Regions from separate parts of the Homo sapiens genome. Here region 2 is linked to region 1. Evidence: fine-mapped expression QTL. Tissue or cell type: hypothalamus. Region 1 holds a variant in brackets; the other region holds the start of a gene. All regions are shown on one strand. Distances are between the middles of the regions.

The links. PIP is the estimated chance that this variant, and not a neighbour inherited with it, causes the effect. A credible set is the group of variants that fine-mapping cannot tell apart.
Region 2: FZD10-AS1 starts here. The variant in region 1 is the best candidate, but not a certain one, in a credible set for the expression of FZD10-AS1 in hypothalamus (GTEx, PIP 0.60).

The regions. Positions count from the first base shown.
Region 1 is chr12:130,042,354-130,044,953 of GRCh38, forward strand. No RefSeq gene overlaps it. Among named protein-coding and RNA genes, the nearest start is that of LINC02418, 1.3 kb to the left of the region's middle. The variant A/C (reference allele first, on the strand shown) is at 1,601.
Region 2 is chr12:130,160,202-130,162,801 of GRCh38, forward strand. FZD10-AS1 (FZD10 antisense RNA 1) reads right to left here and starts at 1,477. Exons shown (of 4, transcript NR_033834.1): 1 at 456-1,477. It overlaps FZD10 (frizzled class receptor 10), which reads left to right and starts at 2,263. Exons shown (of 1, transcript NM_007197.4): 1 at 2,263-2,600. RefSeq lists enhancers at 743-1,309, 1,310-1,876.

The sequences.
Region 1 (2,600 bases):
ATTCTCCCATCAGACACCGGGAGAGCATCTCCGCGGCAGCTTGCAGGGCCCGCTGTCTCCACTAGGGGGCGGCGTACGCGCGTCTCTCGAAGCCGGGACCCGCGCGGGGAGGCTGCACTGGCTGGAAACAGCGCCTGGGCGCTCCCGCGGCTCCCACCTCAGAGATGTCCCCAGGTGCCCCACGCCCCCCGCGCGAGCCCCGACACGCGAGCCCCACCGCACTCCTCAAGGGCTTGTGTGGATCCTTTTGTCCCCACCCCCAAGGAGCTCCTCTGACCCAAATTCCTGCTGAGCTCACTCCAGGCCAACACCCCGAGCCACGCGCTTCCCCAGGGAGGATTCCAGCCCCCTCCAGTACGGCCTCAGCCGAGGAGCTCCCGCTGGGCCGAATGAGGCCCAGAAAACACGACCTGCCAGGAGCGGATATCATCCACACACAAACACACTGGTGCAAATGCATACACACATGCATACACACACTCATACACATGTTCATGCAAGCCCATGTGCAAACATGCATGTGGCATATGCACGCACACACATGCATACATTTACCCACACCTACACGCACATACATGAACACACATGCACACATGCATACATTTACCCACACCTACACGCACATACATGAACACACGTGCACACACATGCATACATTTATCCATACCTACACGCACATACATGAACACACGCACACATATGCATACATTTACCCATACCTACACGCACATACATGAACACACGTGCACACACATGCATACATTTACCCATACCTACACGCACATACATGAATGTGTGCGCACACACATGCATACATTTATCCATACCTACACGCACATACATGAACACACACACACATATGCATACATTTACCCATACCTGCATGCACATACATGAACACACGCACACACATAAGCATACATTTATCCATACCTGCATGCACATACATGAACACATGCACACACACGCATACATTTACCCACACCTACACGCACATACATGAACACATGTACATACACATGCACGCGTGCATGCATGTGCACACATATATATGGACTTACACAGGCATGCACATATGCATGGTGCATATACATACACTACATACACACATGCACACACGCATATAGCTGCATACATATACACACATGCACACAATACACCCACGTATACACACATGCACGCGTGTGCATATGTACACCTGCATACATATACACACATGCACACATGCACTATATACGTGCATACATAAAAACACATGCACATATATACACACATATACCCCTGAATACATGTACACACATGTGTACATGCATAATACACCTGCAAACATATACACACATACAAATGTGTAGCACATACATTGCTCCAAATGCACACATACGCACATGCCTGCATATGTGTTTGTATGTGTGCACACACACCTCCCAAACAGTGGCTGACATCTGGTGGGGATGGATAAATATTTGCCAAATAGGTGAAAGTACACATGGACATCACAGGGGAGGCCCTCTCCCCCACAGGGCCTTTGGACCTGCCAGTCCTCTGCCTGTTTACTGTTTTCTCACCTGGCTGAATTCCACTTAGACAAGATGTTGCAACA[A/C]GGGCCTGCAGAACACACCTGGCCTACAGTTGTGTCTTGTATGGTCCACTGACTATTTTAAAAAGTTACAAGTTGGCAACATTTAAAAACTGAGAAATCTGATACAAATTCGCAAAATCCTGTGACCTTGGAAGATCATATATCTGGCAAGATAAACTCCTATTCACATCCCAGGGAGTGATCAAAGCTGGGCAGAGGATGCCTCCCCAGATGGCGAAGTTCCCTTTGCCACCGCCCGCGCCTTCATGCTCTATTGTGCCTCATCGCTCACGCGTCCACACTACTTGCTCAACACCTGCAAATGTGTGCATTTTTAGCCTCTGACTTCACCTTGCTTCCTCTTCCAGGAAGCCATCCATGAACCCCAGGGTTGGGGCTTCTCCTCGGTGCTCCCGCATCTCCCTGGATGGGGGTCGTCTCTACCAGCAGGCTGGGGGATCCCCGAGGGTCTGTGTTCTGCTCACAGCTGGATCCACTTCCAGCTCTGAGTGCCGTAGGTGTCAGGCACACAACAGGTACTCAAAAAATGTTGATGGAATCGGCAAATAATCGCAGAGCACGTTATCATGGGAATCTGGGCTGAGCTTTATAAGGGGAGCTTGAATTTAGGAGCCGAGAAGAGAATGAAAGAATCCGAGGCAGGAGAAGGTCAGGGCTGCCGGAAGGGAGTAGGACACTCACTCGTTTGGGGAAACAGTAGCCTGGTGTGGAGGTCCGGGCGGGTGCTGGGAACCACGAGGGCAGCGAGGTTGTCCTGGCAGAGTAAATGTTCGTTGTTTAGCCACCAGTCTGTGGTACTAAAGATGAAGCAACTAGAATCCTTGGGACAAAAGGCAGGTCTAAAAGTGTCCTTTGAAAGAACCCTTAGGAAAGTCACACTAGCATTTCCAGGAGCCGTGCGGCCAGTGGACCCAGGTGTGTGTGGCGTCTGCCCTCCCCCACCGCCACCTGACTCAGGAGGTACAAGAAGCAGAAACAGCCAAGGCCTGGTGTCCTCAAA
Region 2 (2,600 bases), 120 kb after region 1:
GAGGGAGAGACACAAAAAGGAAAAGAAGGAAAATAGGGCCCAGGAAGGACCTTTGCCAGGAAAATTCTAGAAAAGCCAAGTGATTTCCGCTGAATTAATTTTAATTTAAAGGTCCTGAAAAATTACTCACTAGACAAAAAACAACAACAACAAAAAAAAAAACACTATAATAAAAATGGCAGTCTTTCAAAAATAAAATCATGCAACTTTTCACTTGGGAAATAACACAGTTGAAGGTGGTGTTCTAACTGCCCGGAGTTTCTACCTTCTTTTTCACTTTCTCCCTCACCCCGACTTCCTCCAGCACCTCCTAGTGAGACCCAGGACACCCAGGGACAGCGACCCAGGGGTGGGTGCCTGAACCTGCCTATTAATTCTGGGATTCTGGGCGCTCAAATGTCTGTTGAACGGATGAATGAATGAGTGGAAAGGTGAGATTTCCCCAAGTTTCTTACCGATGTAAAAATTGTAGGGCTTGTTTTAATTAAAAGCCAATACTCTCCGAGGAAGTGGCCCCCTCCTGCACGGCGTGCAGAAAGCTGGTCAGTGAGGGGGGTTCCTGGCGGGCCCCATCTCCTTCCCGGGCGCTTCCTAGGGAGACCTTGCCCCGTGCGCAGCGTCCCCACCGCGGGGGCCCGTGCAGCCGCCCCCCACGCCGGGTGGAGCGCCGCCAACGCGGGAAGCCCCAGCACTGCCTCCAAAGATGTCCGCACACTCCACCCTGCTCCCTGGAACTATCCTCAAACGGGCAGGGGGCAAGCGAGGCCGGTGGACGCGGGACTCGCTCCTCTGACCTCTCCCCGGCCCCCCGGGAGGTAGCGGGAGATTGCACACGCGATCCTGCGAGTTTCCGAACTTTGGAAGATCGTGACCCGGAGAGACCCTGGGAGGAGAGGGCCGGCCACCTCCTAGGGGTGCTGTTTTTTTAAGGGTCAACCCAGGACGCTACGGGAAGCACCTGGCGCATCCTTGGGAACAGTGGGGCTTGGCGGTGGGCGCCCACCGCGAACGCCCTGGGCGGGGGAAGGGAATGGCGGGGGGACGTCGTGTCCTAAGTGACCCCGTCACAGACCCGCCCCAATCCGAGGGGGGATGAGCTCAGAGGACCTGCCCAGGACGCTCCTTCTCCACTTTCCAGGAAAACCGAGCGGCGTGCGCGCCTCCGTGTCCTCGCGGGAGCTGGGGGTCCCCGGGCAGGCGCTGACGCGCTCCTCCCACGACCCACTCCATCCCACCCTACTCCGGGTCCTCCTGCGGGGCTGCAGCCAAGGAGGGCGCTGGCCGGGCACATCACTCGCCAAATCACATAAATACCCCACGAGCGAATGACTTCCTATAATAAATAAACTCAGCCGCCAAGAAGGCATCTCCAGCCCTGCTGGCGCGAGGCCCCGGCTCTGCGGCTTCGGAGGGGGCGGGGGTCACCGCGGTACAAACCAAGCCCGCACTTCCCGCGGGGTGGGAGGCGGTGTTCAAAGTCCCGGGACGCTTCCCGCCCCTCCCCCTTCCCGCCTTCTTAGAGGAGACCTCGGATGAGCGGCCCTAAAATCCGGATTCTCGAGCCCCTCCCCCTCCCCTTAGCTCGTCTCTTTGAAATTTCAAAGAAAATCCCTCCTCGGAGCCCGGAGCCCGGGGCTGGTAGCACCTCCCCAGCCTCAGGAAGATGCGGGCAGGTTTACAAGCAAGGGCCTACTTTATGGCCCAGGCTATAAAACGCAAATCCCACCTCCCTTTGAAAGCGCCCTCCGCCCGGGACTCACCATAAAAGGAAGAGAAGATGCACCCCGCGCCCCTCGCCGCGGACCACCCCCAAACCCCTTCTCCCGCCAGTCCCCGAACTTCCCGTAACCTCGGCGTCCTCGGGGTGCCGGGGACCATCCCGGGGACCGCCGGGAAAGGGGGCGCCGGCGGAGAGGATAGCGAGAGGCAAAGTTGGAGGCCAGGCAGAGAGAGGGCGAGGAGAGGCGGGCGGGACTGCCGGGGAGGGTCGCAGCGCGCAGAGCCCCGCGCGCCAGGCGGGCTGTCCCGGGGCTGGCGGGCGACGCGGGCGGGACTAGGCGCTGCGCCCCCCGCAGGCTGGGCTGCAGGCCGGGGGGGATCGGCCCCCGCGGGGCCCGGGAGCCCGCGGCGGGGCGGCGGGGAGGAGGCTGCCCCGGGCCGCTGCGCTTTCTCATGCAAAGCAGCGGCGGGGCGGGGCGCGCGGCCCGGGGGCGGGGCCTGTCAGCGCTCGGCTTTTCTGCCCCCCTTTGCCTTTTTGCGAGTCTTCTCATCCCGGGACGCAAACCTCGAAACAGCTGCCGGCTGGTCCCGGCCGAGGCCGGCGCAGGGAGGGAGGAGCCGCCCGGGCTGTGGGGGCGCCGCGAGCTGGGCCGGCCTCGGTGTGCCCGCGCCGCCAGCCCGCTCCAGACGCGCCACCTGGGCGCTCCAAGAAGAGGCCGAAGTTTGCCGCGGCCGTGAGTTGGAGCTCGCGCCGGGCCGCTGCGCCGGGAGCTCCGGGGGCTTCCCTCGCTTCCCGGTATTGTTTGCAAACTTTGCTGCTCTCCGCCGCGGCCCCCAACTCGGCGGACGCCGGGCGCGGAGAGCCGAGCCGGGGGCGCTGT